Linked DNA regions of Homo sapiens: region 1 is linked to region 2. Evidence: fine-mapped expression QTL. Tissue or cell type: whole blood. Region 2 holds a variant in brackets; the other region holds the start of a gene. All regions are shown on one strand. Distances are from middle to middle.

Evidence for each region. PIP is the estimated chance that this variant, and not a neighbour inherited with it, causes the effect.
Region 1: it holds the start of PLCL1, and the variant in region 2 is fine-mapped to the expression of PLCL1 in whole blood (INTERVAL, PIP above 0.99).

What each region holds. Positions count from the first base shown.
Region 1 is chr2:197,798,796-197,809,419 of GRCh38, forward strand. It overlaps PLCL1 (phospholipase C like 1 (inactive)), which reads left to right and starts at 5,798. Exons shown (of 6, transcript NM_006226.4): 1 at 5,798-6,544. The coding sequence starts at 6,305. It overlaps LOC105373828 (a long non-coding RNA gene), which reads right to left and starts at 5,751. Exons shown (of 4, transcript XR_001739850.3): 1 at 4,914-5,751; 2 at 2,943-3,024; 3 at 2,029-2,091; 4 at 1-1,572. RefSeq lists a silencer at 5,845-5,974.
Region 2 is chr2:198,092,023-198,102,646 of GRCh38, forward strand. It overlaps PLCL1 (phospholipase C like 1 (inactive)), which reads left to right. Exons shown (of 6, transcript NM_006226.4): 4 at 9,263-9,338. Among named protein-coding and RNA genes, the nearest start is that of LINC01923, 280 kb to the right of the region's middle. The variant G/A (reference allele first, on the strand shown) is at 5,497.

The DNA.
Region 1 (10,624 bases), 290 kb before region 2:
TTACTTTTCTGAATTTTAGAATTCACAGTAGCTTATTGATGAGAAATATAATGATCATCACAAATCAGAAAACATATTCCTTCCTTTATAAATTATAGTATAAAATAGTACTGTTTTGTGGTTTTTGCCCAGAGTTAAGTATTTGCTTGTCAAAGAATCTTCCAAGTAGATTTTATCTGCAGCTATCAGTTTAGTTATTAAAATTTCATTTTGGTTAGGAGAAAATTTGAAGAAAGTGCCGCAACATCTTATTACACAAAATGTACGGTGCTTCTTACTTGTTATTCTATTTCACAAGTTAAATTAAATTTCAGTCCTTTACTGTTGTCTAATATTTCAGATGTTTCCTACAACATACTTAAAATTTCAAAAACAATTGTAACATTATCTGAAATGTTTCACCAGTACAATTTATACAGAACAGTGAATGGCAAAAGTCCCAAGTGTGGTTCAACAGCTGTTGCTCCCGTACTGTGGGCTGAGTAGAGGCAGTTGTATCCATGGTGACCTATATGACTTAATGAGAGTGGGAACTGCGTGATTCTCACAGGGGTTAATGACAGAGCAAACGCTGGCAAGCCAGCTTTCATGAGGCATTTGGCTTTTTTTTGTTTGTTTGTTTGTTTGTTTTTTTTTTTAAAAGGAAGGATTCACTTTTTCTAACTCCTCATTTTGTAAAGCAGACAAACTTCGTATCATGCTTAACAAAAGAGCTATATACCTGAAAACTAACTCGGAAAAAAAGGGCTTACAAAACAAACTATACTTTACTTTTGTCCTATATTTTAATGTAAAACATGCATTATGATTTTATATTTATTCAAATATTGCACTCTGCTTCTTCCTCCCGAAAGGTTTAAGGTAGACTAGAACAAAGGCATATCAATAAAGTCTATAAAATAGGTGTAAGAGTCTTACACATTATGAGTGGAGAAAAGAAGTGCATTAGAAAAGGAAATATGACTCTGCAGTTTCTTCCAATGGGCCCTGTGACACTAAAAAGCATTAATAAACTTCATACCTTGGTATAAGTTGGAGGATTAAAAACCCCAACATCGTGTAGGTGATTTAGATTTGAGGAATGTACCTGGGATTTGGGGGCTCGAGGGGAGGAGGAACCTACTGTATATTCACTTCTGCATTGAAAATGTCAGGCATTGGGTGTATATCTGGTTTGAAAAGATTTCTGTCATAACGTTGTACCTGGAAAAGATTCGGTTGTCAAATAAAACAGAGAATCAAGTTTTTATGGGGGCCTTATTTGTGCCATTTCAGTGGTACTTTTCCTAAGTGCCTCTGGCTTCTGCATCAGTGGGGGAAAAAACCGTGACATGAGCTCCAACTCCAGGATCCACGTCAAAGTAAGTTAATACATAGAAAATAAATCAACACTGTCTATTTTTAAAAGACCTTTGCCATGCACAATACAGACTACTGCCAGATGATTGGCCTGGAGCTCCTGATAGTGCCTTAGCCCCAGGGTCTTCATGGGGTAATTCCTGTGGGAATGGTGTTAATGGATAGAGGCCCAGGCATTCTGCTCTCCTGCAGACAGTAGAGATTTCTCAACCTCTGAAAGAAGCAGCAGTAATCAGACATTGAAGAACATTGGCTGTAATTAAAGATTTCTTAGATTCATTGCCTCTCAGTACTTTAAAGATTTATTAAACTGGGGAATCTAGACCTATTATAAGCAATTTGTAACTTCTCATTTTTGTAGGACTGTTATAATGGAGCACACTTTACTTGTTCTTTGAAATAAGATTAGTTGATTTTTATGTTTTAGTTACTGAAATTTCTTAATTCCTAATATAAGTGACAAAAACTTTCAAGAAAAAACTTGAATTTCAAAGAGGTCATATATCAAGTTTTGCTTATCTTTTATTGACTTGTATGTATTTACTCTACTATAATATTCACTCTACAAATTACCCTACAAATTCTGTTTTCTTGAGCTAGCAAAACAAAATGATCACCATGTATATTGGGGAGGGCTATGACTGAATGTAAAGATGCATGCAACTTAACTGAAAATGCTGTATGTCCTCTTCTTTGATTACGTGCAATGCGTCCTTTAACTTATTAGGAGACCTGTCTCAATATAAAAATATTTTTCTTACACATATGTGAATGAGATGATAAATGTGTTTCCTCATGCACTAATGAATCAGTCATACTGGTGGTCCATGCTGATGACATAAAGGTCATGTTGATGTTGAGAGAGGAGGTTGTCATGGTTAATATGAGTGGTCCCAGATCTGAAGGAGTGGCTCTTCATTCTCCAGGACAGCTACTGGACTTGTATCTTATGAGAGCTTTGGGTAGCAGGAAGAATGCAGGCTTTGAAGTCACTAACATTGCCTCAAATGCTGGTTCTTTCACTTCCTAGTTGGCTCTAACTTCAAGCAAGCTACTTGACCCTTTTGATCCCCAGTTTTCTTATCTGTGAAGTGGAGATCAGAATACTGCAGAGAGGATTATCTGGTACATAGAAAGCAGTTATCAAAGAGATAGTTCTTTTCCCCCCACTATGACTTCCTGGTAGTATATGGAAAGTCTTAATATTCTCACTGGTTTTTTCTCAGGCCCAGGGTTCTGGACTTCCCTGGCTGGAAGGACTATATTGACATATCTAGTCTTTTAGTCTGGTCTAGGTATTTTCAGGACTGCTAGAACTTGCTTAGTTCTTATTGGTTGTATTTCAGTCTAATTCTAGATTTCAAGTCATTCCAATTAATAAGTGCCCTTCTTCTGAGATTTGTAGCTGCTTGGTGTGGATCTGTTCTGATTTCTGCTCTAAAATGGAATTCTAGGATCCTTGAGGATGAGAAGTTCTACCATGCAGACAGTGACAGAACCATTTTTCTTTATCAGATTGATTATTTTATTTAGTCACAGGACTGCAAAAGTCCTCTGTCCATAAATATTTATTGAGCACTTACTCTGTTCCAGACATAGTTCTGGGAGCTGGAGATACAGCAATGAATAAAATCGCAAGGTCTTTAGGCACATGGAGATGGCATTCTACATTTCAGTGAAGCAGAGATAGGGGGAAAGTAAAACAGAATATGTAAGTAAACAATTCCACGGAAAAGACAGTTTGTTCACAGTGATAAAATCCTGTGAGAAGACAAAACACAATATGACTGACATGTACTGAGGCTTGTAGGGGCAACTTGAGATTTGTAGTTAGAGAGTCCTTTCTGACGTAGTAACATTTGAATTTCCTGCTCGTTACTATTATTCATATCTTACCTTCCTACCCCTGCTCACCCCCAAATTCCAATCTGCCAATCTAGCAATTGTCACCATGACTTGGTAAAAGGTTGGGAGGCAAGAATTGTAGGTGACAGCTATTTGGAAAGAGGGACTGTTAATGCAGGGGTAGGAATGTGCCCATGGCTGCTGACTTAACTGAAACTAGCTAGTCTCTTTCAGTTTTTGAAGTGGGTCCACAAAGCAGAATCTGCTCCTGGCTAGGAGCAAGTACATAGGAGGGGTTTTTTTTTTTTCAATTGCAAACATGAGTATCAGGAAAAGCCTTCTGAGCTTATGCTGGAACACAACAATATAAACGACTTGCTAGATTAGGGTCCAACTAGTTTATCAAAGCAGAGTAATTTAGACAACAATCTTTACGGATAGAGGCTCAGAGCAAAGGAATCAGAGGGGTGTGTGTGTGTGTGTGTGTGCACTTTCACATGAGGGTGAGAGGGAAGGATGCCAAGGAAGAGAAAAGAGTCCAACTAGACATTGTCTAGTTGAAAGATACAACATTTTGCAAGTTATATGCTGTACTTTCTGGCCTCTGTTTTTTTTTAAATCACTGACCTTGAATGTTTGTTAATAAAGTGATGCTAATTTTAAAATTTGTAAAAATAAATTATTATCATAATGGTACACAAATCTGTAGGATGAGGAACTTATAAATGACATTAATATCCTATAACAAGATAATGAGTGAGATAAAGGCAGTTTTACATTTTTCAGAGGACAACCGAAGAATGGGACTTTTATTAGAGTAACAAAGAAAAATGAAGCACTGACAACTGTAAATGACAGAAGTCAAATGTAATAATAGTTGAATATCAAAGAAAAAAATGATAGCCTAAAATAAGATATATTTCTGAGGATAGCAATTAAAAATATTTCCTATATAGCATAGACAGGAATTCCCTGAACTAAAGGAGATGGAAGACATGTATGGTTGTTTTAAGTCTGGGTACACTTTATTTTCTTCCTCTAGTCTGTGCGTTGTAAAGGCATACCTGTTGAAAAGGAAACTTTTGTTGGGTTACCCCTCCTGTCTTTTAAAGATGAGGGGGAAAAAGAAGCCTTTGCTGTTATGGATGCAGTTCTCAGAATCTCACTAGAGGGTGGTGTTGGTTCTAAAACCAGAGGTCACTGCTACTCTCTACAGTACATTCATTACTAGGCTGCATTTATGTTTAAAGAAAAGGCAAAGTCAAGCCTTCTCAGTATTCCCTAGTAGTTGATAAATGTCAAATCTGAAACCTCCCAAGTGCCCCTGCCAGTTCTGGCTGGTTGTAGCCCAGAGGAGACAGATAAAGTAGTGAAGAGATTATCGGAGGAGTTGGGTGGCTGATTCTAATTTTGGCTCCTGCACTAACTAGTAGACAAGACTCCCTGGGCCTTTGTCTCAACCGTAAAACAAAAATGATGTCCTAGTTGATCCCTAAATCCCCATATATCTCTAAAATTATGAGATTCAAACCAAATTGTTGGTCTAAAATGCTGAATAATTTCTCATGCTGTTAGCCAGACTAAGGAACAAGTAAAATCTCAAATTATTAAATTATTAATAAGATAAAATGTAATGTTATAAGTGAGGTTTAATATAGATTCTAATATCAAAGGAGTTTAAAATTAAAATGCCAAGTCTTTTGTCTTACCAGGGAGCCTTAGGACCATGGTTTGCATCTGAGCATTCTGTGGATAATTTCAGTGACTTAACTCATCATCCAAAGATCTCTCCCTTCTTGGTTGCTAGCTTACTGGAAATGAGCAAAATATGTTTTTATATAGGATTATATAGAGAAAGGAGGCTGAACCATTGTCAAATAGGAATGTTTTAGGATAGAGACTAAACTCCCCACCTGCATTTATCTGACTTGGATTATATCTGTGCTTTTTAAGAGTCAGTCTTCGGAGGGATTTAGTTGGTTCAGTTTCCTTTCACCCTCATCTCTTTCACTGACTCCCTTTCCTTGTTATATTTACTCACACTGCAGAATGACCTTAGAATCCTTTCCTGGAACCTGAAGCAAATTATGGAACCCCAAGATCCCAGTAAACCCTAGTTTATCTCTGCATGGACTTGACTTCTAAGAATTGGCCTGAGAGCCTGCAATTAACCTGTGACCACGCAAAGCTTCACCCCGTCACCCCAAACGCTTAGACATTCATACTCAATACCCACTTTCCTCCAAATTGCTTTGTTTGGCAGAAGAAGGTTTCTTTCTCCCCTCTCCTTCACCCAACCTGGATTTTTGTTGCATCTCAGGCTCATTTCGCAAATCTAAACTTCCTAAAATATACACGGAGCGCCTCCGGGTTTGCACACGCGCGCGCGCGGGTACACCCTGGCTCGAGTACATTAGCCCCGCTGGGCCGGCTCCCAGTTGCAGAACACATTCCATTCTTCGCGCTCGGGCACACCCCTCCGCAGTGAGGATTGGTCGGGCCGAGCCCCCTCGGCGAGGCGAGGCTCCTAAGAGGCCCAGACGCCTGCCAATCCCCAAGGGCTGTCAAAACAAGTCTCCCTCCCTGTCACAACAGAGCTGAGTGGAGGCCGCCGCCGCCGCCGCACTTCCTGGGACCGCTGCGCCGCAGTCCGCGGGCAGGTGGCGGGTGCGCCCGGCCGCAGTCGCCCGGCTCTGGCCCCTATCGGGCCGCCGGCGTCCGGGCTCCAGAGGCCGCCTGGCTGGGCGCCCGGTGCCTTTTGTCTGGCGCAGGGCCGGCGTTTGCATCACATTTCGGATACCTCCCTCTCTTTTTCGCCTCTCCTTCTGCCTCCCGCTCACATCGCCTCCCCACTCCCGCCACCGTCCCCCGCCGGACTGCTAGCCTCCTAGACCGAAGCCCGAGGACGTCTCTGCCCGAGCGATGTCCCCTCTCCAGAAAGTTGCCGCCGCCGCCGCCGCCGCCGCCACTGCCGCCGCTGGGCGGTGAAACAAAGTCTGGCGGGGCCGCCTCCCGGTGCAGGAGCGCACCGGTGCCTAGCGGCTGGACTCCGCTGCCGGGCGTCCCGCTTTCCCCCGGGGAGCCCTAAACGCTCCAGGCCATGGCCGAGGGCGCGGCCGGCAGGGAGGATCCGGCGCCGCCCGACGCGGCGGGGGGCGAAGACGACCCCCGAGTGGGCCCGGATGCCGCCGGGGACTGCGTGACGGCGGCCTCTGGGGGCCGGATGAGGGACCGTCGCAGCGGGGTCGCACTGCCAGGCGCCGCGGGGACCCCAGCGGACAGCGAGGCGGGCCTCCTGGAGGCAGCACGGGCGACCCCCCGGCGCAGCAGCATCATCAAGGTAAGCAAAGCCGCGCCGCACCGGGAGCGTGGCTGTGGGTGATGGGTGGGTCAGGGACCCGGGCAGGATGTGCGGTGTCCGGAGGCATCCGGGCTCAGCATTGTTTTCTCCCACCTCCTTCAACGCCAAACCTTCCTTCCTTATCCGGAGGTTCCCAGACTCAGCTGTCAGCCACGAGACGCACAAGTGACTTTTTCTCCCCACTGACGGCAGAGGAAAAGTTCCGCTCTGCGTCTTTGCGTTCTGATGGATGCTTTCCCTCATTTTCTCTGCAAGCTTCACTAAACCGTTGATGGAGGGAGGAAGGGAGAACTCTGGATAAATGCAGACCCACCGGATGGTTGTGCATTGCTTTCCAATGAAGGGTTAGCTTTTCCCATACAATGAAGAAAATGCACAGCTTACTCTCAAGTGTAAAAAAAGAATCCCTCTAGACTTAAATGATCCCGAAATCCCAAGATGTGTGAACTTTCCCGGTAGGGAGGCAGAGTTTTAAGTGGACCCTGCATCACAGTAAAGAGCAATGCAAGAGCCCAGAGTTTTTGCGCTGCAGAAAGCACAACCGGAAAGCAATCAATCCCCCAAGCATTATCACTGGTCCTTGTGGTTACCACCACATCCAGGGAAAACGCTTCCTGACCCGCTAATCACCTCACAGAATTTCTCTCCATCCATTTGGCAAGGAATTTGTAAACCTCTTTCCTCCCCTTTCTCTTTCCATCTTCCTTCCACTTGGGGCTTGTTTCTTCTGTTCGAGATTTCCTCTTTTGGGAGCATGACTTTGGGGTAAGGTTATTTAGGAAAGAACCCTCGCACAGGCTCTGGAAAAGGGCCTCAGTGTAAATGCATGTGAGTAATCAATCAAATGTATGTCAGATTAAAATTGATTTTGGTGGAGCAGTCAGTATAAAACGATATGTATGTATGTATATATGTAAGTATATATGTGTGTGTGTACATACACACACACACATCCCTCAATGACAATGAAAGATGGACTTTTACTTACTATTGAATTTATTGGGTTCACTAATATATTCAAAAGCTCTGTTCAGGGTTAAGCTGCGTAACCAGTGCATCACGCATGTTGCAAGCTCCCAGCACCAGCTTAGGTAGACTAACCACAGAATGTGGCTCCAGTAAAGTCTTTTTCCCAACACTGACACATGGAAGTTTAAAATCAGTGGAGAGGTTTCTATAATATATAAAGAAGAGTGGGTGGTAATTACAAATGGCTTGTAGTAGTTTCTGTTATTTTGTGGCTTTTTGATTATGTAACAGGAGTGTTCTATTCTGGGTGTGAATTTGGACAAAGGGAAATTACTATTTTGTTTTTAACCCACAGGTCAGAAAGCACACTGTTTTCAAACTTAAAAAACATCACAATTAGGAAACACATACATTTTGGATTCTACTGTATTGATACTACATGGTGTCCTGTGTGTGTAAAACAGGCACTGCAAGAGACTTTAAAATATATGACAATAAAGAGCAAACGGCTCTATAATGTTGTAAAAAACAAAAGTAATGGAGTATAAGGAATATACAAATTCTTGCAACTGAGTTTGCCACTTGTGAATTGTACTATGCTGGTTTATATTCTCAGAAGGGTCATTGCTGAGTAATGGTGCCTCTTTTGTTTTGAAGTTTCTTTTTGTGACAAAAAAGGAGGGAGACAACAGAATATTAACTTGATTTTTCCCCTATTTAATAGTAAATGCAATTAACATTTGGTAAATGGCCTTTAAAATTAAAGATATTAGAAAATAAAGTGAATTATTATGTTAGGTTTTTATTGGAAAAGTAGCACATACATATAATTTAAAAAATCAAATGTTGCAAAGGAGTGTGAAGGAAAGACCCTCAGACACTCCACATTCCCACTTATGTAGTCCACCCTCATAGATGTTAACACTTTCTTATGTATGCTTCCAAAATATTCCATGCATGTGTAAGCAGATATATCTATATGTGTCTATGATGAACTATAGCAGCTCCTGATTTCTACAAAAAAATCTGGCTAGAGTTTTACAAGTCTCATAGTTTTAAGCATTTTTGAAGCCTAGAGGGGGTAATCTGGTAGGTCTTTGGTGGGCAGCAGTCATTGGGGTCTGTTCCCAGAGGCCTTAACGCCCTTCTAAGGAGAAAAAAAGGCAGGTGGTAAGCTCTGTTCCACTCCGTCTCTGAGATCAAGAACCTTTCTGGTGACATTCTTGAATCTGCTGCCCTGTGGTTTGTTCCCTTTAGCATAGTAAAAATGAGTTTCCAAAAAAAGTTTAGATCATATAAGAAATACATAGCACATGTTCTATATTGAGAGAAAATGCATTTTTCACAGTTTTGCCAAGAGATTTTTTTTTAAATTTGGCATTGAAATGTACACAAAGAAGAAAAGCTTTAGTACATTTTAATCAAAATATTAAATGCTGTTCCAAATAGCTGTAGTGCAGTAATAATTGATATTCATAATGCTGAGCCACTGAAAGGTTGTGAATCATCAAATATTAAATTCTTGTCAGCTCAATTTAAGGTATTGTTTCAGAATAGTGCTATCCTGACAGAAAACAGACTGTCTTGTATATTAATAAAAAGAATGTTTTTAGTAAATTTGCCCTCCATAATTTGTGAAAACATGTGTTTAGTTGAAAAAACAATTTTCTTCTGAGCTGAGGAAAACAATGACAACATTTATCTGTATGCATCTTCAGAAATTCTTTCTACTGACATTGTGTTTCTTCCCCACATATAACCAATCCTAGGTTTAAAAACGTTCAATGTGAGAATTAAACTAAGTTTTTTTAAAATCTGTCTACTTTTTCCTATATTTTTCTGTGTGATTGTTTCAACAGCATTGACATTGATAAATGCTGCATGTTTTTTGGTAAGCGCATTGTTATATACCACAATAATGCAATAGAATCCATTTTAATTTCTTCTTGATGACTTGTGGTTTGAAATGACAAGTTGGATACCTGCAGTATTGATAATCTCTAAAAGTTGTTTACTATTCTGCATTTGAATATATTTCTAATTAAGAAATAAGACCATTTATTTATCTGGTATTTGATATCAAACTTATAGCATTTAAAATATTTAACATTTTAGATTATTGCTTATAGCCCTATAATCTGCTGCCCTGTGGTTTGTTCCCTTTAGCATAGTAAAAATGAGTTTCCAAAAAAAGTCTAGATCATATAAGAAATACATAGCAAATGTTTTATATTGAGAGAAAATGCATTTTTCACAGTTTTGCCAAGAGTTTTTTTAAATTTGGCATTGAAATGTACACAAAGAAGAAAAGCTTTAGTACATTTTATATTAATCAAAACATTAAATGCTGTTCCAAATAGCTGTAGTGCAGTAATAATTGTAATGTTTTGGAAATAGGAAGCAGCATAGCTTATTTACTATATTAGTTGGTGGAAACTGAGCTACATGTGTATTTTAAAAATAGCAGTTGATTTTTCTTCCATTGTATGTGACACATTGACGGGTTCTACTTTTTTTCAACTTCCTTTTGTTCTACTTAAGAACAAATTCTCTAGGCAAGGAAGAATAGAAATTGTCACTTGGATCTCATGGACATGGGTGTGGGGGATGAAGATGGGAGTTGGGAATGAGGTGTTGAGACCAGCACTGGAGCAGCTACTTGGGTGTTGTTCATGTCTCATTATTTTATATCATGGCGAGTCTCACTCTCTCATGTCATCTTGGGCTGGTATGGTGGATTTTTGAACTGAAGCCTTAAAGGTGCCCCTTGGGTACCAGTAGACCCCTATCAAGATTATGGCTTTCCTCAGAGAGGCAAGAGGAATGCAGTTCACATTAAGTGCCTACTACTGTGAGTCATATACTAAACTAGGAGCTTTCGTACGTTTGTATCACTTAAACCTCACAGGAAACTCTCTAAAGTATGGAAGGAAGGCACAGAGAGCTACTGTTAAAATGTGGAGTGATGACTGAAAGTCATGTCTGCTTAATTTCAGAGTTTGTGCTCTTGGGCTGGTTCTCAGATGCAAGAAGTCCCACAATCCATCAACACTTCTAGGTTTGAAACAGCCCGAACACGTGAGATAGTGA
Region 2 (10,624 bases):
TTTACCTGCCGCTCCCAACTGCACCTGCATCTCCAGCCTCACCTGCTTCTCCCAACCTCACCTGCCTCTTTAGTTTTACTGCCTCTCCCAACCTCACCTGCCAGTCCAGCCTCACTTGCCTCTCTCACCTGCTTCCCCAGCCCCATTTGCCTCTCCCAACCTCACCAGCTTGTCCCAGTCTCACCTGCATCTCCAGTCTCATCTGCCTTTTCTAGCCTACCTGCCTCTCCAGCTTCACCTGCCTTCCCCAACCTCACCTGCCTCTCCAGTCTCATCTGCTTCTCCAGCCTCATTCTCACACCCTCTATTTTGCTCACTCTCTTCCAGCCACACTGGCTTTCTTTGCACATATTTATGGGGTATGGTGTGATATTTCCGTACATTTATACAATATGTAATGATCAAATTAGAGTAATTAGCATATCCATCACCTCAAACATTTATTTCTTAGTGGTGAGAACATTTAAAATCCTCTCTTCTGGCTATTTTGCAAGGTACTTACCACTGTACCACCGACACCACCTCTTCTAGCTATTTGGAAATATGCAATATATTATTGTTAACTATAGTCACTACTGTGCAATGGAACACCATAATTTATTCCTCCTTATCTCTTAATTCTTAGCTCAAATGTCATTTTCTCAGAAAAGCCTTCCCTAACTACTCTCCCCATACATTCCTTTGTCACATAGCCATGTTTTATTTCCATCTTCCTGCTTAGAAGTATTGAAAAATACTTTGCTTGAACTTTTTAATTGCTGTCCTCTTTTACTCCTCAATTTGAATGTAAACTCCGTGAGGTTAGATCCTATCTGTATATTTATTACTGTCACCTCTGGCACCCAAAACAATGTTGGCACATAGCACGTTATCAGGTAATGTTCACTGAGTAAAAACAATAAATAAAAGCATCTATTGTTGGTGAAAATCGTGTAGTTTCCATCCTATAACTGAACATGTTTGATGATAAATTATTAAATCCCCTTGATTTTACCTCTCTGACACCACCCTTGCTGAATTGTTCCCTATCTTATATTTGGCTAAAAAACTTACAGAGTAAGGCAAAACTATGGAGACAGTAAAAAGATTATTATTTGCCAGGGCCTTTGAGTGGGTCAGGGAGGGATGAACTGGTGGAGCACAAAGGATTTTTAAGGCAGTGGAACTATTCTGTATGAAACTGTAATGGCAGATACATGTCATTATACACTAGTCAACAACCTATAGAATGTACAACACAAAGAGTCAACCCTAATGTCAACTATGGACTTTAGCTAATAAGAATGTATCAATAGTGGCTTGTCAATTGTAGTAAATATACCACACTAATGCAAAATGTAAACAGTAGGGAAAACTGGGAGGTGGGGGTAGAGTTAGAGGGTGAGGACTCTGTACTTTCCATTTACTTTTTATGCAAACTTGAAACTTCTCGTAAAAATACAGTCTAACCACCCCCCCAACCTACCACAGACTATTAATAAAAACTGATTTGGATGAATAAGGGAAAAAAGCAAATCCAAGATTTATTGCCTAGTGGTGTGGTTGGTGTGGGGAGAAGGTATTCCAAAATGAACAGCTTGGGTTCAATTTAGACTTAAGTTGCTTAAATTTTTGGATTTCTTGAAAATGGTAATGAACTGTGTAGATGCCATCCAAGAGGAAAAATTGTTACCACTAAAAAATGCAGAATATGTTTAGAATAAAAACAACCTGAAATCTTTCCTGAACAGATACAAATGTTTTCTTTTTTCAGTATGGAAAGAAAGAAATCAGGCAACTTGGTAGCCTACATTTGTTGAAAGCAAACTTGAGTGCATCAAATTATACTATTATCAAGGGAAAATAAAATAAAATATTCTAGAAAACACTGACCCTGAGTTCATCTGCACAGATTTTTTCCCCTAAATTTAGCTTTCCATATTTATTACCCACTATAAATAAATAAATAAATAAATCCCACTATTTATTAGTCATTAAATATTTGAAAATATTTCCTCCTGAGGGTTTTAAAATTCAGTCTTAAAAGTCATTTTTTTTCTCTCTCTCTTTTTGTTTTGGAAACGGAGTCTCACTCTGTCGCCCAGACTGGAGTACAGTGGCGCGATCTCAGCTCACTGCAAGCTCCGCCTCCTGGGTTCATGCCATTCTCCTGCCTCCGCCTCCCCAGTAGCTGGGACAACAAACACCCACCACCATGCCCAGCTAATTTTTTGTATTTTTAGTAGAGACAGGGTTTCACCATGTTAGCCAGGATGGTCTTGATCTCCTGACCTCGTGATCTGCCCGCCTTGGCCTCCCAAAGTGCTGGGATTACAGGTGTGAGCCACCGTGCCCAGCCTTAAAAGTCCTTTTAAATTAGTCTTGCAATTATAATTCCATTATAGCAACTGTGTTGGTATCAAGAAATCAAAAATCAAATGTATTTGTAGCAAAATGGGCCTATTGACGTGGCAGAATTTCAGAAGAAAGGGAAGGCACACTCTCCCCTGTCTTAGCACATCTTACTTAAAGTATACGTTTTCTGTCTGCTTCCTGGGACTTGAAATTTCAAAATTACAACCAGTTCCCTAGGGTTAAGACTTTTTATCTTTTTTAAAATGCAGCAACATCCCTGTGAGTAATAACACACTGGGTTATCAGTAATTCATTCTTACTTTCGAGTAAATTTAGCAGATCCTGTTCTACAAGCAGGTTTTAACCTGGGAGAAGCGAGAGATGGTAATGACAGAGGGTTCACCAAGTCTGGGTAAGGTGAAGGTGGGGTTGCTCAAAGAATTGCAATTTGCTTACGGGCAGCCCTGTTTACTGTTACCATTAATACTCTCAATAGGATGTTGCCATGTAAATGCCTATCTAGTATTTTGTGCAACTGAAGCAGAGATGACTTTGCTGATATAAAACGTGTCACGGCTGGAGGTGGGAAGTGTACAGCTTCTAAAACAGCACTAGAGGGAACTGGGAGCACTATCAATCAATAACTCTGGCAAGTAGAAAAGGCTCTAAAAGTCGAAGGTAGAATGGATGCCTCTTTCGCAGGCTAAATACACAAAGAGAAGAGCTGTTGGCATTGGATTGTTCACCACAGTGCCATTTCAGTGGCCCTCTGCTCATCAGGAAAGTTTTCCAGAAACTGTCCCTGGAGCTTAATTTGAAATCAGAAGACCATTTCTAAGTGACTCTTCCATTTATTTTACTGCGATTCTTCTTCTTTTTTGGCTCAGGTCTCTGAAAGAGCAAGCATCACTTCCCCACTCTGGATTTTTACTTTCTCTGGAAAAATATCCCACTGAAGTAGGTAGTATAGTCACAGAGTCATCGTCTTTTAAGGCTGATAATGTCATATAATTATATTTTGCAAATAAAAGTAATATGACTTTTTTTCATTTAGGATTCATCTTAAATTGGGTGTTGTTAAGAGTAAAAATTGGTTACAGAAAGAGTTACTTAGTGTTATAGCCAGAAAATGGAGATGTTTAATTTGATAAACATTTTCTGAACTCCTTTTAATGTGCAAGCCACTGCGTTAAATGTTGTGGAAGGTTCAGCAGATCTTGTGCTTCAGCAGCTTACCAGCAGGAGATGTAACCTGGTGAGGTACTACCCAGCCCTAGGAGTCTACTATTGGGGATGTGAATATGTTACTCATCATTTAACATGGAGTTGTAATAGCAGGGGATTACACTGGAAAACATTTTGTAATTTTAGTAGGGCACTATCAAAACTAGTTTGTTTGAATTGGTTTGACTTTTTTCATTCTGCAATCGTGTTTTTATGCATGTAGACTTAGCTCCAGCCCTAATGTTTTACTCTAGTCACATTTCTACGTTTTATTCTGTGTAACCAAAGATGAATAAGCAGAGACGGAATCAGCACAGATAGTCATGATAGAACGAATGACAGTTCTGTAACTCAAGAGAAATAGGAAAATGTGTAGGAACACATATATTTGCCACTTGTAAAATAACATTTTCTCATTTGATATGCCATTTTGTATATGTCTTTAGGCTTTTAATTATTCAACTAAACAAGAATATTTTGGATGCCTACTATGTGCAAGGCAGTGTGCAAGGTGCTAGAGAAAGAAATAGTATGAAGCAAAACTTCTGTCCTTGAGGAATGGGCAACCCTGATGGGAAAGGAGGACTTACACCTAAAAAGGGAAGTAGTCACACGCAGTGTTCAGAGAGTTGACCACATGGTATTTTATGTCCTTAGCTGGAGTCTTAGATCATTTAGTCCTATGATAGACTTTTCACAGTGACTTATAACACACTTCTTCTACCACCTCTGCCACCTGGTACTCAGCAGAATTTTATTTCCAAATACATTTGAAAGAAAAATATTATCTGACTTTATATACTTTCTTCTTTAGATGGCCGAGCTTTTCCTTTTCAGTGTTCTCACCTTTCTAATTTTTCATGCAGTCAAGAAGTATTTTCCTAATATATTTGATCATTTCCATTATTTTAAGTTGTTATGAAAAATATTTGGGTAATATCTTAAATATATCATTCTGAAGTGGAATAGCTACAGGAGGTTGCAACTGTAAGAAATAAGCCCAAAGCATTCTCCAAGGTGACTTCTGTGCTACCTTATTTAACATTAACATAAAAGTTAAAACTTTACTATGGTAAGAACAATTTTTTTTAAATTTGTTGTTAAAAAAAGGAAATCAAAACAATCTAGAGAACATAAGTCAAGGGTTATTTAATCTTTTACTAAGTCAGTTGGGGGTGATTTGGAGAGCAGTTGATAGTGCTAGAGTGAGCAGGAATCTAGCAAAAAAGAGCTAATTGCTGTCTAATCACGCTTGCAATGGAATGAATACACTAGTAAGTATTACAGTTAAGCCAGGCATAATGGTTGGCTTAAATACATTCTGTTATATCAGTGTTATAACCAGTATATATTCAGCCTCAGGATGGGAAAGAGTTGTAGTTATGTCTATAGTTCCCCGATTTAGTTTTGCTTATTGAAATCCATTTAAATTAAAATTGGATTCAGTCAAAGATAGTCTCATTCCATCACTGTCTCTTATTGTGAAGTTTGTGTGGAACTCTATTAGTTTGCATTTCAAGAAGTATCTTTGCTTGTATAGTAATAGAACCTAAAAAAAGAACTGTCTGCTGGCATGTGCCCAAACAGAGCTCGGTGTTTAAAAACAAGATGCTGTATTCTTGGGGTATGGAAACTTCCTTCACATGTGGGTACAGCAATGTCTTTGGACACATTTTCTGTGTAAGGGGAAAATTATCAGCATCTTGAGGAGTGGCAAAATTTCTACTTGGTACCAGGATCTCTAGGACCATGGATATCAGAGATACATATCCATAAGCAAGTATTTCAGGTTGGCTTTTTTTTGTGGAATTTTGTCCATGCATACTCAAAGCTGGCTTTGCATTCTTGAATCCTCAGGCTTTGTAACACTTTTGGTTAAAGGTAGTAAGGTAGTCAAATTGGCCTGAAAATTCTGGAGAAGGTTTACTAAGGCTACTC[G/A]TCTGGATATTTTATGAAGGAGTTAAATCGTAATGACAGCTGGATAAAAACAAATATTTCTAATGACTACTCAAGGTATAGCTGACAACTGTTTGGGGAACAAAACAACAAGAGAAAAAAAATGATCTGTTTATGCCAAAAGGGCCCCCTGAAGTAGATTTTGTCACCATTGTGAATGTGGAGACAAACGTCCTCTGACTTGCTGTGTGCAAGTTCACTTGTCCTGCGCCATTACAAATCAGGCTTGCAAATGTGATGCATTAGTCCCAGGACAGAGAGCTCTGTTGCATACACCAAAGGCAGTGGACTTCCAGTGAACTTGCAAATATTCTGACTTTACACTTGTTTCTGTATGACCGAGAGTTGACCACACTGACAGGCTTGATTGCTTAAAAACAACATGCCAATCTATTAGCAATGCTTTTATTTGTTTCATTTTAAATATTTAAGGAACTTGAGAATGAAAGGAAATAATCTTCATTCTAGTTAGCAAATATATATGTAAGAGCAATCTGATTTACAAATGTACCAAGTTTAATAAGAGTCATCTTGTTTTAAATGATCTGAAAAGATGAGCCACTGCAGAACCATAGAATCGAAACCTAGTTTTTTTGCTTAGAAGGAAAGTAAGAGCTAGAGGAATTATTCCAGTGTTCTGAAAAGGAGAGGACAAAAAAAGTCTAGAGTAGATTAGCTTTTTATTGACTCACATTTTCTCAAGCAATAGCTTCTCCAAAGTTCCTAACTCCTTCCTGAAAAAACAGAGGACTCAAGTAAATACATTTCTTCCTATGTTTCATATGAAAAAATGTTTATCATGATTGATGCATGTTGTGAATTAGACTTGGAGGGAAAAGCAGTCATGGCAAAATTTATTTTCATGATGCTTAATTTGATGAATGTTACTTTATTGTTTATTACCAACTTGCACTTGCAATAGGAATTCTACACTTTAATATGGTCTGCTCCTCAAGAATGCCTAGATTCTAGTCTAAATTGTTTCACTAGCTAGTTGTGTGGCTTTAAGCAAGCTAAGTTTTAGCTCAGGGTTTTCAACTATAAAATGTGGTTGTCCATGATAGACTGTCTTTAAGATAACTTCTAAGTAGAAAGATTGTGGTTCTAGGAATTTAGGTCTAATTCAGGATAAAATGGGAATCTATGCAAGATTTTTGAGTCCTAATATGACGAAAGTGCATCTTTTCAGTATTATTAAATAATTACATTGACTTTGCAATGATTCTGGGCAATTAGTTAAACTTCTTACTGGTAAGAGCTGGAAGGATAGTTTCTTCACAAAAGCTGGACAATTTAATCCATCTTTGAGTAACAGTATCACTGCCCCCTTCAGTAAAGTTTTCTTTTTAAAGACATAATTTTACTCTTAAAGGGTAACTTTACACACCCCTGCTCTGGATACATCTAATGCATAAAGTAATGTCAACCTTTATCTGGGCAAGTCCTCTATTCTTTTAGAGACAAAGCCCTGACAAGGAAATAAGATCCATTAGGAGATATTCATGTGACAGAACCAGAGAAAAGCTCTTTGTATTACTACAACAGGCAAAGGCAACTAGCAGCTCAGGCTGAGACATCAGATATGTAAATCAGGCCACTGCCAGATTCTATCGACTGAATCAACCCAGCCGTCATGGCTGAGTCGTGCTGACTTCCCGGCTCAGGGATTATCTGAGGACATCTTCTCACCTTCTCTGCTTGGCTTTTGCGCTTTGTATTTTATTTCCATCAGTATCATTTAGAGATCTTGGAAGGAGGTGAAACTCAAATCGACCATTTTTTCTCCCTGACAACTTAGATAAATTACTTAGTTGAGAGGAAAATTTGAAATTTTTGACTTAAATTGTGGTTTGGATTATTGGTACATTTTAGCTATTCATCTCATTTGTTTTTTCTATAGCTACTAATAATTGAAAGCTGACTGCAGAAAATAGAATAAATTTATAATTCTCAATACAATAGAAGCTGTTGACAGAGAGAAAAATCAAATCCCCTTATGAAACAATTTCATATGAGCAATGATTTTATGTTCTGAGAATATTAATGATAAGATATGTGAGGACACAATTTGAGACTTTTATTACTAAAAGATTTCTGGTTATTTCTGAGGAATCTCAAACAGAAGCTTGTTTTGAGGTAAAATTATACTCGATTATCTCTTTATGACGTTTATTAGACAATGGGAAAAACAGAAACAACTTATACCATGGGGTTAACAAATATTTACTTGGGGGCTTTTGAGAAGAACTTGAACTATAAGGTTTTGGAGTATGTTTTGATCCTAAATTTATTTTACCTCAAATAAGCATGTAATAAAGTTTTAACATTTGTTTTACTTTCTGATGTTTGAGTATTATATTTCTACAGGGGTAATCCTATTAAAAGCTTTATGCTTATTTTTCAGTACTTAATTTGAAAGAGAATTAAGAGCATACAAAATTACAGAAAAATGAGGAAGCCTAGGAAAAATAAGAGTGGAGAAATCTAGAGACAAAAAGAGAGATGGGAGTTCAAAAAGATAATTACAAGTTTGAGAAGTGGTCAGTAATAAATAAAATGTTTTATTGCACACACATATGTGGGTAGCAGACAGAGAGAAGAAATAAGTATCACAAAAGCAAAACGGGGAAAAAAGTGATTATGTAAATGGATGGATGCATCTGGGAATACAAAGCTGAATAAGATTGAGTCCCTGCTCTACTGGAATTACAATTTACTGGAGAAGTAACAAGATGGAAATAATATAGGTAAAGAATAAATCATAAGATAGAAAATAAAAAAATTCCATGAACAGATTTAAAAAAATAGAATGTTTTGGGAATATGGGGAGTGAGAAGGAGACAGAAGGGGAAATCAGGAAACTAATAGAGGAGAGGGCACTGAAGTGAGCTTTGAGGCCTGGCAGGATTTTGATCAGGGCAGATGGCTTAAGAAAGTTTCCCTAATAGAAAGAAATGTGTGGGAGGAGGAACAAGTAGGGTGTGTTTAGAGAAGCGTGATTCATCCATGTCAACTGAGACTTAGGGGAACTGGAACACCATAGTTCTAGGTTAGAAAAATTTTACTTCATTCAGTAAGCAAGGGAGAAAATGACAAAGCCAGGAATTAGTACTGTAGTTTTGGATGATGATTCTGGAAGTGGTACTTAGGAAGGAGTGAGATCAGAAGGACCAGAACCTACTGGTAGCTGAGTGGGACTTCAAGCCCACCTTTGAGTGCTGCTTGAGAGAATTCGGAGAAGATAGGAGATACTTCATTTTTTTGGTGGGAGTGGGGTGGGGGAGAGACAGGGAGGATAAAATGGAGCAGATAATATTTTTAAAGGTGACTTTGCTGCCTCTGGAAGGATAAAAAACCCTATTCTGGTTCTCATTGCTATTATGTTCCAATACCACTTGCCTTGATATTGCAGTAATCTTTGATGTTAAGGGAGTGGAATTAGGTATTTATGAATATGACCTGGGACATAAGGAATGTATATACATTTATTTGACAGCTACTTATTTGGTGCCCACTGTGTGCCAAGCATGTTACACAAGAGAGTAATCATAAGGAAGGTGACACTAGCCTCAGTGTTAGGATGGATGGGGGTTGGAACAGAGCTTATCCTTCTCCCTCCCATCTGTTGTGGTGAGACTATGGCTTACTTTTACTGGAGGTATCATGTGGGTCTCTCTGTATGTCGTCTTCCCAATGAGCCAGTTCAAGGATTCTGACAACCACCTTTTTGATGTTTATTTTGTAACAGATGATTCAAGAGAGCCGGTTTCTCATAGAAATGGCGGACACAGTCCAGGAAAAGATTGTACAGTGTCAGAAAGCAGGTAATTGTTTTTAATTTTTTTTTCTGTTTTTTTTTTCTATTTTGTTTGGAAACTATAATAATTCTTGGTAGATTTTTTTTTCAGAAACTTTCTGCTTCTCTTAAAATGCAGTTATTTTATAGCAATGCTTAACTATACTTTAAGTTACACTTTAGTCTTTGTTTAGTACAGATGAAATCCAAGTGATAATAGGTGGGTTGTATGTGAGCGTACAGGGTTGGGGTGGTGTCTGAAGAAGTCTAGAGGGATGAGGGTTTCTGAATCTAGTTTTGTGGTTTGGAACCCCATCAAAACCTTCTACTGCTGGTATTGAAGCTATGGTTCCATACAGTCCCTTAAAACCCACTTCAATTTTACAATTGGAACCAAAATCCTATTAATCTTCCAGGCTTTTGCCCCATTACTAGTCTTCACTTTAGATTTAGATTTGTTCTTTCTTTTTAAGTATGGGATGAGTCACATATCTGTGAGAGTGTACTTGTTTATTTCTGTTCACCTTCATCCACACCCTTGTGCTTTCATCTCCTGGATCCACAACCTTCTCTATCCACATACCCGATAATGATTATGACGAGGAAGATGACAATAGTAGCAACTGCTTGATACATTGCATATGCTATACCAAGCACACACACTATCTTACTCATGACAACTCTGCAAAGTAATCATCATTATATCCGATTTATAGATGAGGCATCTGAGATTCTGAGAGACTGAGTGACTTACCCTAGGTGCCATATCAACACGCGGTGGAGCTGCCCTTTGAATCCAGACCAAACTTTTAAAATGGTGCTTTTCACTGGCTGACCAGCAGGCTTAGATATTTCTGTTGACAGGAAGCACAAAAATAATAATACCTGATACTTACATGATGCCAGGCACTGCTCTGAGATCTTTATATGTACTGATTGACTTAAGCTTTACCTCTGTCCCATGAGGTAAACCCACTTGTTAACCACATGTCACCCGTGAGGAAACTGAAGACCAGAGATGTCAGGGTCTTTCCGAGACTCACATAGCTAGTAAGTGGTAGAGCTGGGCTCCACACTCATGTTCTTTACTATGTGCTATGTTTGTGATGTTAGCACCAGGAAAGTTAACGTGGTCTTAGGCTGCATTAATAAAAATATAAAAACTAGAACAAGGAGAATGGTGGTAGATCCCTGACCTCATGTAGGCTTCTCCAAGCCCATTTTGAGTACAGCGTTCACTCCTGGAGGCAAGTTCCCACAGAGCTCAGCTCCAGGAAACTGGGCAATGCAGTGGCCTTGCCTGGATGCCATCTT